Homo sapiens: one gene and its partners. The protein of the gene in region 4 interacts with the protein of the main gene of each other region in a pairwise test. Each region holds a gene or a part of one and is shown on either strand. Other genes may lie near its edges.

The links. The genes of interacting proteins can lie anywhere in the genome.
Region 1: the proteins of SLC10A1 (region 4) and IFITM2 interact in a two-hybrid assay, tested with the Homo sapiens proteins (one large-scale study listed by BioGRID).
Region 2: the proteins of SLC10A1 (region 4) and IFTAP interact in a two-hybrid assay, tested with the Homo sapiens proteins (one large-scale study listed by BioGRID and IntAct).
Region 3: the proteins of SLC10A1 (region 4) and LNPEP interact in a two-hybrid assay, tested with the Homo sapiens proteins (one large-scale study listed by BioGRID).

Annotation. Positions count from the first base shown.
Region 1 is NC_000011.10:306,583-309,895, reverse strand, and holds IFITM2 (interferon-induced transmembrane protein 2), read right to left. Parts: upstream 2,081-3,313; 5' UTR 1,704-2,080; coding exon 1,458-1,703; intron 884-1,457; coding exon 731-883; 3' UTR 501-730; downstream 1-500.
Region 2 is NC_000011.10:36,636,002-36,639,501, reverse strand, and holds part of IFTAP (intraflagellar transport-associated protein), read right to left. Parts: intron 3,452-3,500; coding exon 3,385-3,451; intron 1-3,384. UniProt on the Homo sapiens protein: Seems to play a role in ciliary BBSome localization, maybe through interaction with IFT-A complex.
Region 3 is NC_000005.10:97,033,580-97,037,079, reverse strand, and holds part of LNPEP (leucyl-cystinyl aminopeptidase), read right to left. Parts: 3' UTR 1-3,500. UniProt on the Homo sapiens protein: Release of an N-terminal amino acid, cleaves before cysteine, leucine as well as other amino acids. Degrades peptide hormones such as oxytocin, vasopressin and angiotensin III, and plays a role in maintaining homeostasis during pregnancy.
Region 4 is NC_000014.9:69,774,916-69,777,578, forward strand, and holds the end of SLC10A1 (hepatic sodium/bile acid cotransporter), read right to left. Parts: intron 1,474-2,663; coding exon 1,367-1,473; 3' UTR 501-1,366; downstream 1-500. UniProt on the Homo sapiens protein: As a major transporter of conjugated bile salts from plasma into the hepatocyte, it plays a key role in the enterohepatic circulation of bile salts necessary for the solubilization and absorption of dietary fat and fat-soluble vitamins.

The DNA of each region.
Region 1 (3,313 bases), on a different chromosome or scaffold from region 4:
TTTTTCTGTGACCAGCGGACCTTATCTATGCTCCCAATTCCAATTCCTTGTGAACATACTTTGTAAAGTCCTGTAAAATCCTGTCTCTTTTGCCATGCTGCTGCAAGGTCATAAAGTAGATAAAATTAGATAAAACCTAAGTTGCAATTCTGTTTTTCCTCAAAATCTAAGACATGTCACAAAATAATTTACTGCCTTTGTTTCTCTCTCTGGTAACATCTTCCCACCACATGTATTTCCCGCCTTAAAGAGATTAAAAGGCAATCACCCAAAACCAACAGTGGCTACCCTCTCCGGACCCCTTCCATGCTGTGTAAGCTTTGTACTGTCACTCTGCTCAATAAAACCTACAGTTTTTTTCTTCTCTTGGTCTGTGTCTCCATCACTCGCCGCGGGCAGCCGCCACACCCAATTCTTTGGTGTGGCTAAGGCAAGAACGTTTGGCATTACATTTAATCTCAGAACCAGCAGGACCGCTCCCCAGGTGAAGTCACAGCAGCACCAGAAACATATACACTTTATTGAATGCCATTGTAGAAAAGCGTGTGAGGATAAAGGGCTGATGCAGGACTCGGCTGTGGGGACAGGGCGAGGAATGGAAGGTGGAGTAAGTGGAATACAGGTCAAGGGCAGAGCTCCTGGCCTCTGGGGGCAGGGCGAGGAATGGAAGATAGAGTACGTGGGATACAGGTCACGGGCAGAGCTCCTGGCCTCAATGATGCCTCCTGATCTATCGCTGGGCCTGGACGACCAACACTGGGATGATGATGAGCAGAATGGTCATGAAGATGCCCAAAATCAGGGCCCAGATGTTCAGGCACTTGGCGGTGGAGGCATAGGCCTGGGCCCCGGTCACGTCGCCAACCATCTTCCTGTCCCTAGACTGGGGGAGAGGAGATGGTGAGGGGACCAGGATCCCCCAGCTGAGAGCCGCGTGCTATGGCTCCAGCTCCTCACTGTCTCCTCCCTGCCCTGAGATCAGGGACCACCTCCTCCCCTTCCTCACCCGGCTCAGACTCTCCAGGAGCCTCGGGGCTCATCCTCCTTCTGCCTTGGCCCCAGCACAGGCTGTTCTCCCCACCATGGGGTGAAGTCACCTGTGAGTTCCCTTCTCACTTTCTGGGAGAGCCTGGGTGCCAGTCTGGAAGGTGAAGGTGTAATTTCTTACTGGGCTATAGGGAGAACTGCTCTGGGCTAGTGGATAGCCGGGGACAGACTCTGAGCCAGCCAGCCAGCCTCCTGGAGCCTCCTCCTAGACCTGCACTGGGCAGATTCCCCAAGCCACACACACACACAGATCACACAGACAAAGCCACTGACGTGGGCACACACAGGACAGACGTGCACACAAACTCACAGTCACAGGGACACACAAGTCCCCACCCCAGGCAGCATGTGGGCAGGTGGAGCCCCAGGCTCACCGGCACCCCCTGGATTTCCGCCAGGGCCATACGCACCTTCACGGAGTACGCGAATGCTATGAAGCCCAGGCAGCAGGTGTTCATGAAGAGGGTGTTGAACAGGGACCAGACCACATGGTCAGGCACGGAGGTCTCGCTGCGGATGTGGATCACGGTGGACATCGGGGGAGCAGGGTTGTGGGGCACCCCCAGCATAGCCACTTCCTGCTCCTCCTTGAGCATCTCGTAGTTGGGAGGCTGGCCGCTGTTGACAGGAGAGAAGGTTTGCACAATGTGGTTCATGGTGACCAGCGGTGATCGGGTTACCGGGATGGTTCTCAGTGAGCCCTCCCTTTCCCCAGTAGTTCCGTTTTCTCAACAGTTTCCTCTTCCTGGCATTTGTCAAATGCAGAGCTGGCCAGGGCCAGATAAGGGCAGAACAAATTCCTGAGGATCAAATTACTTTAGGAGAGGGAGGAAAGAGGGGCTGAGGGCTAAGAGGGGCTTCCTCTCTAGAGCCCAAAGGAGCACAAGTCTCATCTTGTTAGTGGTGTGGGGTCCTGGAGACTTCCCCTGTGTTGGGAGTCTCCACACCCCAGGCCAGCAGCTGCAGGACCTCACTGTCCCGGTTCAGGGCTCCTGCCAGGCCTGCGCTGACGCCTCCACACTCCAGGCCCCACAACCGTTTCCCCAAAGCCCTCACCTCTGCCGGGCGCCGTGGCTCACGCCTGTAATCCCAGCACTTTGGGAGGCTGAGGTGGGAGGATCATGAGGTCAGGAGATCGAGACCATCCTGGCTAACACGGTGAAACCCCGTCTCTACTAAATATACAAAAAAAAATTAGCCGGGTGTGATGGCGGGCACCTGTAGTCCCAGCTACTTGGGAGGCTGAGGTAGGAGAATGGCGTGAACCGGGGAGGCGGAGCTTGCAGTGAGCCAAGGTTGTGCCACTGCACTCCAGCCTGGGCAACAGAGCCAGACTCCGTCTCAAAAAAAAAAAAAAGCCCTCATCTCACTTGTCACAGGCCTCATCTGCTGACATCCCTTGTCCTTTGCTGGGGTTGCAGTCCTGCTCCATGCGGGTTTGGGGGTTAAAGGTCCCCGTGTCTCCTGGTGCAGGTCAGAGGGTTGGCGGCCAATGTTGCCTGCCCCAAAGGAGCCCTCCAGGCCCAGGAAAGGGGACTCTGGGAGCACTGACAGAAGAGGGGGCTGTGGGATGCCAATAGCAGAGACCTGGACGGTGGAGTTAGAAGCCATGGCCCTTTCCCCTGGAGGCCCACCTGGGTGACGGCTCCCAGACCCGCTCCACACAGCCCAGCAGCACCCACGCTGCCCAGAGCTCTGGCTGGCTGGTCCCTGGGGCACCCTCCAGATTTCCAGGTTCTGATCATCTCTGCCTCTTCCCTGGGTCCTCACACGGGTGCCAGCTGCTTCCTGTAGTTGCCGCCTGTTTTTCCCATGAACCGGTGCTGCCTCTGAGCAGCTCCTGAGGTTACAGCCTCCCTGTGGAAACACCTTGTGTGGCCTCTGGGCTTCTTCCTGGACCTTCCTTGGCAGAGGCTATTGCAGCAAACAGAGCTGATGCTGTGCACTTGAGCTTGTCAGAGGGGACAGTGCGGGTCACAGGGGCAGGAACGTGGCCTGCAGGCCTATGTGCACCGCGACCTGCGCCCTGTTTAATTCCTGATGTGCTACATGGGCCCATTTTCCTGGGCTTATTCTCCCACCAGGCCAGACTCCGCAGAGGACATCGCTGAGGGTGGAATTTACAGAGATGGGCAGCTGCTCACCCTGCTGTAGCCTTTCACCTCAGCGGGTGGTCAGGTCCACGTCAGTATTCCAGAGTTTACATGACGGTAGCGTGCAGCCGTGTAACTGCAGAGTGATGTGTTTGAGTAACGATGACTTTGGC
Region 2 (3,500 bases), on a different chromosome or scaffold from region 4:
ATGAGCCAAATAAACCTCTTTTCTTTACCCAGCCTCAGGTATTCTTTTACAGCAACATAAATGGACTAAGGCAGAAGTACAGTACTGGAGAACCTGAAAATGAAAATCAAACAAGGCTGCCAACCTTTGAGCAGGAATCAGTGCCCATTCTCAGTCAATACAATCAGCCACACCATAAGTACACCCGCTGACCAAGAGATGTGTGTAAGACAGTATGAATCTCAGAAGTAGATTAAAAAAAAAAAAAAGTCTCTTGAGCTACTTGCACTTGACCAGAAAAGAGGTTGGGCTGGGCCCACCGAGGAAGCATAAAAATAAAGATGAACAGAAAATCTTCCTATTCTAATGTCCTCAGCACAATAACTAATAACTGATCCAAACAATAATTGTGCTGGGTAAAAGTATGGGCCAGTTTGTCTGAGGCATGACAGTCACCAGGTTAACTACCTTATCTCAAATTCAAAAAAGGAAGAATAGGTTAACTTGATGTCAAATAAACACAGTGCACCAAACTCTGTGGCAGACGCTACCCTCAGAAAACTGCTTAATACCATTGCTTAATAGAGTTGGCTCCACTGAAAAACCATCTCCAATCTTTCCACCTGGGCTGCCAAGTGATAAAACAAATATTAGAAAAGAATCATGCTCCTAAATCTTAGAGAATATTTATGAGAGTGAATGGGGTGAACAAATAAAGTCAATGGTAGAAAAACAATATGCAAGCCACTTCCTTGTTGCCCCAAGCAAATCTGTTGCTTAAACAATAACAACGGAATCTAATCAGTAAACCTCCCAGCTGCCAAAATTATACAAGCAACTTTACTATTTAAAATGTCACATTTCCCATCTGATATAAATATTTGCCTTCTGCTCACATTCCTGAAGTGTAAAACAAATTAGGCCCAAACTAAAATTCGCCTTGGCACCAACTATTTAATTTCTTTTCCCTTTAAATGACCCAGATTGTGCATTATGAAAATTGTAAAGCCCTGGTGGCCTTTTCAGTAATTAGAATAGATTGCTGAAGCCTAGGTTGATTTTCAGCATAGGCTTCACACATCATTCTATGTGTGGGAAGGTCTTGACGAGTTCATTCAAGTCTTGGTTCAGCCTCAGTAATCTTTTATACACAAATACAAGAAGGCTTGTTATCTGATTTCTGGAAAAATCATACTAGTAAGATGTTTTTATCAATATTTTAAAATAAATCTGGTAATTGAAAAATGTAACTTGAAAAAAATATTTAAAGAAAACAATGTGAAAATACTGAAGAAGGTAAAAAGGCGATTTAAAAGATTGACGGGCCGGGTGAGGGGGCTCACACCTGTAATCCTAGCACTCGGGCGGGCGGTGGGGCGGGGTGTGGCCGAGGCAGGTGGATTGCCTGAGCTCAGGAGTTCAAGACCAGCCTGGGCAACACAGTGAAACCCTATCTCTACTAAAATACATAAAAATTAGCCAGGCATGGCAGCATGCACCTGTAATCCCAGCTACTTGGGAGGCTGAGGCAGGAGAATTGCTTAAACCTGAGAGGCAGAGGTTGCAGTGAGCTGAGATCATGCCATTGCACTCCAGCCTGGGCGACAGAGTGAGACTCCATCTCAAAAAAAAAAAAAGATTGACATAACAAAAATCAGATCTGTTGGCTATGTTGGTTTATGTCAATATACAGAGTTCTCATACTGGTAAGAAGTGAAAAATTTAAACCATCACAAAAGCACCCAAAACATGTACTTTTGTGCCCTCTTATGAAATTTATTTTATATTGCATATGTATTACATGCAGACTAGAACCATTTGTCTCCACGTGTTATCCTCAAATTAATTATATTAGAATCATTGGGGGTGTCGGTTAAAATGCAGATCACCAGATGCCACCAAAGACCTTCTGAATTAGATTCTCTATTGGGAGGGAGATCCAGAAATCTGCATTTTTAACAAGGTTCCCTCCCCCAAATCACCCAAAACCCAAAACAGTGTGCTTCCTCTACAAATGTAGCTTCCTGACAAGTCCTTAGCTCTCCCTTCTAATCCAACTGGAGTCCCTTTGCTGCTCTCATTATAGAAATTCAGAGCCACTCAGGGTATTAAAGTTAGAGAACCTCTCCCTGGAGGATGTGATCCCTCTAGACCTCTGATCTCACTTAAACCAAATAAGTAAAGAATCTGCAACATCTGCTGGTTAATAGTGTGCTTGAGAAGCAATCCCTTCACGGAGTAGTGTGATGCTTGAAAGCAGAATAAAAATGTTCATTTCTTCCAATTACCAAAACCTCTCAAATTCAAGCAGCTGAAGAAGCTAGAGTAGAGGTTTATACAACCAATGTACAGATAGTCACCATCCCTAAACCAACTTTACCTAGTCACTTTAACTTCTGTCTGATTATAAATAAGCCATCCTCCCCCAACACTAATGACCATAAAACATGTTTATGACCACCTAAAGACAGTAAACAATAGTTAAACATCAACAACCAAACCTCCGTGGAAACTGCCCCTTCTGTAAAATTAGGCATTGACTTTGATATATTCTTGCATGTTAAATCAGGAATGAGTGTTTAAAAAAAAAAAAAAAAAACTTCCTGATTTTGAACATATTTCAAACATCCTTCGAGAAACAAAGGATACCTATGCCTATCCAGAAATGTTAACTAGAAAGAAAAAAGTTTTCCTCTAAATAAACATCAACAGACTAGCATGAAGCCTTTTTCAATCCAGCCCATGTGGAAAATGCCTCAGAAGAAACATTTACAATATATCTTTAGTATTAAGGGTTTAATTTACATAATAAATATTTTTAAAAGCAAAAAAATGGATTTTCTTTTATTTTCTTTAGAATAGTTCACTGAAGCCTGCATAGATTTTCAGCCTAGGCTTTGCATCTTATTCTACATGTGGGAAGGCCTTGACATTAGTTCACTCAAATCCACTGAAACTTGGTTCAGCCTCAGTAACCTTTAATACCAGGCAAGACAGCCTTATTTTTGTGATCAATTCTGATATTTTTATGATTTTTATGATTAATAGGTATTTTATGTGTCCCTCAAAAATAATTTCAGTTTACAAGACTGTACCTCTAGGAAACAGAGTTGACTTACAATGGCTCCACTTGAGACAATTACCTAAGAATCAATCCTGTGATGAATTGTTAAGGGGGAGAGCACATCTTTATTTCATTTAAGACCAAAGGTTTCACAATCTTCAAAAAGCTTTGACCTTTCAGGTGAAATTTTTGTTACTGAAAAAAATAGCTCACAACTTTAGTTCTTCCTGTCTTAGGAGAGGTGGAGGTAAGAATTGCCAAAAACAGGAAAGCTGTCTAAAGCCTTATTTGTAGTTTCTAGAAAGAGGTCAGGTAGTATAGAAAGGAAATAGAAAGCATACCCTCACTCATTTGGGGTTTAATCTCTTCATCCATGTCCAAATCTTCTAAATCTAGGAAATTATCTACCTAGAAAAAAGAATTAACATAATTTTTAAGCAGAATAGACCTAAAGAAA
Region 3 (3,500 bases), on a different chromosome or scaffold from region 4:
AATGCTCCAATTATGCCATAATTCTCATTTTATATACACATACATACACAGCGTATTATTGTACTGATGGTTTACACAGTCCAATTTCTGGAGCATTTCCTTCAGCTAAGCCATGACCTTTACTTCCTTTGAAGTATTTTAAATTAAGAACTGTTCAGAAATATCACTAATGACTACCATGACTAACTCCAAAAAGGTGCCCTTTTTTCTTTTATTTATGATCAAATGTAAATGTGTCATGAATAAACTTATTTTTTTCTATGGCAGCAGGTATAAGTAATAGCAAAGTATAGGCTACTTTTTCAACACTAGAATCTGAGAGTTTGATATACAGTATGTAACATTTCTTTGCAAATTTTCTAGGAGTTCTATCACTCAATGTTTCCAAAATAGTAATATGGCAAATCTTCAGCATGGAGTAGTAGTATCAGAAATGGGAAAACAAACAATGCTAAGAGGCCTGAAGGAAGGGAGGAGAGCAGAGAGGGAGGGAGGGAGGATGTGTGCCCATGCATTTTCCCTGATGCAGACAAATGTGGAGTTTTAACATTTACCATATGGTAGATGAGGAGACAGTGTGATATAAGAATGCTTAAAGCGAACATACAGGTCTGGATACATGATATGCACACAAAATACAAGGCTAATGAGGCAGCAATGGCTTAAATTTGTGAATGCCAGTGAAGAAAACACCTAACAGTATAGGCACTAAAGACAAAATGGAAAGCACACAATGGAGAACGGAGGAGAAAGATGCAGTCACACAAAAGACCTCTGGGTAAGAAAGGGCCAACTTGTCTTGCCACATGTGGGGGATGAAAGATAGAAAATTCCTTTTGGATTTAGTTTTGGGGCTCATGTTCTATTCATCAGAGCCATGTCAATAACTCGAAAGGGTCATTCCAAGACACAATTTCTACCAGGTACACAAGCTATGCAATTGATGGAATCATAATAGACTTCTATAGATGAATCAGAAGTCCAGGCCTCAAAAAGAAGCTACTCTTAACGGTTTGCAAATGCGTTCTAGACAGCACTCTTATTGGCTTATCAGCTTCGCCGGTTTACCAGTTACTAAAAGATATATGAGCAATGAAGTTTAAACACAGCTTTATTCAATATTGTCCTCTTGCCTTTCTAGAATTTACAAAAGCACAGGTCCCTTTTCACTACCTCATTCAATCTGAATCAACATAAGAAATGCTGGATCTAATTAGCTTTCACAACTCAACCATAGCTGAGTGTCTTCTCCTGTCTTATCTGCTGCACACCTGTTGCTATTAGTTACATTAATACACTGCTACACCTTCCAGCCAGATGGCAGGGATTTAGTAGGTCTTTATTTTTGTTAGGTATAGTCAGACCCCTTGCAAGGGACTAAGTGTTAAAGGAAAATAATGGCGGAAGAAAGAAGCAAATGATATATATGCATCTACACACTTGCATCCTTAATGGAATAGATCCTAGAGAATGAAATAAAATAACCACAAAATAACTACACTAGCTACTGCTAAGTGAGGAAATATGTAGGAAAAGAAGTGAGCTGTCATATTATGAAACTCGACTTTCATTAGGTCCCTACATAGCCATGCAAAAGACTACAAAATGAAATAAAGATATGAAAACATATTAAGAATATTCCCCTACCAAAAATAGAAATCTCTCTAAAACAGACAAGTAAGTAAACAACACACAACTATTCTACTTCCTATTGCCGACACAGGCAATAAGGAAAGGGGAGGATGGGAGATTTGTCATACACTGATCCTCGATTTTCATTAGGTACCTATATATCCATGCAAAGGACTAGGTACAAAACCAATAACATGAAACATTTATATACATCTTTAAAAAGTATAGACACTGTCCTTTCCCCCTGACTATTACCCACCCAAAGAACCCCTCCCCATAAAAAAAAATTAAACAATAAAAAACCCAAGATATGAAACTATTGCCCCTGTAGGCAATGAGGGAAGGGAAACAGGAGAGTTATCATACGTCTGGACCTCCATGTTTCATTATGTACATCCATGTCCCAGCAGAGGACTGGGTACCACATTATATAACACACAGAATGTAGCAAATATTTATATACATTAAAATGTGTGTGTATAGTATATAAATATGTGTGTTCTTGTGTGTATATACACACACATATACACTCAGACACCCCCAAAAGAAACCAAACATCTATTCTACCATTGCCCCCTAGGCAATGAGGGATGGGGAGTATGGGATATTTTTCATAGAGTCAATCTCAACTTTATTACTATTAAGTACCTAAGTGGTCATACAAAGGACCAGATTCAAAATGAAGTTAACATCAAAAAGGAGCAAAACATTTATATACATTAAAAAAATTATATATCTTGCCTTTTCCTCTCAACAATCCCACTCCTCATTAAAACCCTCAAAAGCAAAAAACCAAAACCCAAGCCCTGTAGTGCTCACATACTACTTGCTTGTGTATACAGGCTCTGAGGAAGGCAAAGAATATTTACCACACTCTCGGGTCTGGGTCCCTCATTACATTTGATTCCTACAACTCCAAACAAAAAACTGTGTTGAGAGTGAAAGAACAACAATAACAACAACTAGCAAACTTTTATATACATTAAAAAAAAGACAAACCCAGAAATTCCCCACCTCCCCTACCAAAAAAAAAACAAAAAAACAAAAAAACAAAATCCCTTAAATAACTACTCTACTGGCCATTGCCAAGACAGGCAATAAGGGAAGGGGAGAAGGGGAGATTTTTTCATAGAATGAACCTCAATTTTCATTACGTACCTAAGTATCCATGGAAAGGCCTTGGCACACAATGAAGTAACAGGAAAAAGGAGCAAGAACATTTATATACATTTCTAAAAGTGCACACCCCATCCTCCTGGAGATAGGCAGATGGATAAAAAAGAAAAACCATCTATACTACTCTATAATTATTGCCTACAGAGGCAATAAGGAAAGGGGAAAAGAGGAGATTTTCATACATCCGGACCTCCACGTTTCATTAGGTACCCGTAAGTCCAAGCAATGGACTGGGTACAGCATGAAATAATACAATATAGTTAATGAAAAGTATATATACATTTTTAAAAAGGATATATTCTGCCTTAGACCCCTCCCACCCCTCAAAACTTAAAAAAATCCAAACTACTTTAAAATTATTGCCCATATACATTAAAAGGGTAAAGGGAGAACAGATTGTTATACATCCATAACTCCATGGCTCATTAGGAACCTACACATCCAAGTGAAGGACCGGGTACCCAATGAAACACTATAATAAAGAAATAAAAATATGTACATACATATACAAAAGTATATACCCCAACACCCACCAAAGAATCCCTGAAGCTAATCAACTACTCTCTTAGACACCTGCCCACACAGACAATCTAAGGGAAGGGCAGAAGAGGAGAGCTGCTACAGGCTGAACCTCAATTTTCTTCATATATCCATGTAAAGGACAAGGTAAGAAAGGTAGTGACAGAAAAGTA
Region 4 (2,663 bases):
CTCATGATCTGCCCGACTCGGCCTCCCAAAGTGCTGGGATTACAGGTGTGAACTACTGCATCCGGCCATCTTTATTCCTTTCTAAGAATGGTTTGAGGCCAACCCTGTCTTCCTCAAAAGCTAAACAAATGTGTTCTTACATAACTTGTATGTAACCAAGTCTCCTAGCAGATGATGTTGGTTAGATAATAGAGAAAACAATTTGAACAGGTAGGTATATATGGATATAATAAGTAAAAATGATAGGTGGTAGCCTTGTCAAAAATCTGCGTTTTTAAGAGGATGTTAGTAACCCAAATCTGTGTTTCTCGTTTTGGTGTTGGGAGTACTTGTTAGTCCTGCACATTTGCCAAACTGATACCCGAAAACTATATTGTCTTGGTTTCATTTGTACCTGACCATACAAAATGATAAAAATCCCAAGTAACTAATAAGCATGATTGACTTTTTGTAATTGTTAATATTAGTTGTTAATCATTTACTTGATCCTTATTTACATATGATATGCAAAATGTTTAAATTTTATTAGAGACAATTTGAAATTTGTGAATTCTAGGTATTTGAACATTTTTCTTTGAATTGGGAAACGACTCATTTTGGCAGTAGTTTGCTGTACCCAGTTTTGGGGGCGCCTTGTGTTAAAACCAAATACCTACTGAACTTAAAAAAGAGATTATTAGTGAGGTAACATTGTGTTAATGTATGTGTTTGTTTCCTGGTTTTTCCTTGTCAAAAGTTTTCCTCCTCTACTAACATGATGCATTCGCCCAGTTTTTTCATTTCATTAGCTATTTTTTGAGTTTGTTTTGCCTGATTGCATCTTACTGTGTTCACTTTTGCATACTTGATGTCAAATTTGACTTTTCGGGAGCATCATCCCAATAATGTCAAAAGGGAAGGAATAGGATCTGAACTTTTTAGGTTAGAACTTCTGAAGTTTAATTCTACAGCACTTGTGAGCATTTATTTCTCTTTTGGGTCACAAAACTTGGAATGGGATTTGGGTATTTGAGTAATGGGTTAAACATATATATTGATTAGTTCAGGAATTGAGTGACTTTAAGATGCTTATCAGACACTTTTAGAGATCCCAGCAAGAGGCAGATTCGGTTTCTGGTTTCATAGAGTTTACAGTCACTGAACAAGTCTTTAAAATAAGTAGCAAATTCTAAGTTGGGGATAGGTGAGGCTTCTTGGGTAGACACCCTGTCTGTGTTCCCGGCCAAGACTTGATGATTCTGATAGATGTACTGGAAATGCTGGAGAAAGACTCAGGCAAGACTGGTGTTTTTGCTGCTCTCTCTAGTTTACCACACTGGCTTTCAGAATTGCTTTGGGACCAGAATCCAGGCCACCAGGGGAAGGGCTAGGCTGTGCAAGGGGAGCAGTCCTCCCCTTTGTAGGTGCCATTTCCCAGAGCTCCTGGAATTGTTTCTTCAGTTGTGGCAGCTGTGTAGATCATTTTTGTTTTATCTGTAAAGTTAAAAAGGGTTACAGGTGTAGAGAGAGAACAAGAGGAGTGAACAATGAAGCTTGTTTAATCTGGAAAGTACAAAAATACCAACTCAGCCCTAGAGTGTGCTAAGTATATATTTTCCATCTCTGTCGTCTCTCCCATGGTTTACTCTTTAAACTCACTTTCCCCTCAGTCTCCCTAATGGTAGTACTAGTAGTAAAAGTCCTAATGAATTAGACTATTGTGTCTTCATCATCACTTCACTTCTAACTTCGTTATACAGTAAAACAACAGGAGATGAGTTTATGTATGCAAGGTCTGTGTTGCATTCAGGGAATGAGGAGGCAGGCAGGAAAGATCTTCGAGAAAGTCTAACCAAGAGAGTTTCCAGTTCTTCCCTCCAACCCCCAATTGATCTACCTCTTCTTGTCCGTGGTGTAGGCGGTGATGCAAATTTGAAGATAGCTTTGATTCCTGCACCTTTCTATACAGATGGGAGAGTTCTCTATACAGAGTTGTTCTCCCATCAGGTGCAGGAATGAAAAGTATAAAAACTTGACAGATTCCTCCCCCCTGAGAATAGCTTCTTGGGGCCATTAGGTCCAAAGAAATACGTTGCTTTGATTTAGTGTTTCCACTGGGGTCTTCTGAGATACACTGTGAGGAAAGTTCTTTTCAAGTCTTGAGAGCTAAAGATCCATAGAGTATTGTCCTTTGAGGTCACTTCAGGTCTTTCTGGTACTAAAACCTCAAATCTGGGAATTTGGTTGGTCTAGAAACTTCTGTGCACTTTTTGTAAGAGGGCAGCAAATCTCTTGCGTTCCTCTCAGATAAGCATCAGAGTAGATTCTTTCTCACAACTCTACTGTAGCTTTGAACCAAAGCTTCTAAAATGGTTCTAGTGTATGGTCAGCCTGTACTTGTTTCGTGTTGGCTGCTTGGCAACCTAATTACATCTTAGCTAATTGCAAAGGGAGAGAGAATCGGCATTTGCTTGCTAGTATAATGTAACAAATTCCAATAGGGAAAGTTGTGTATTTCTCCTAGGGTGTAAATCACAGTCCCTAGGGTCTAGAAAGGTTTTGAAGGGGACTTCAATTCATGGACATGAAGGGACAGTTGAAGGATTTGGGTAGGTACTTAGGAAGAATATACTAATGTTGAGAGTTATAATGAAATGTGTTATAAAGTGGGTTTGAATGTCCTG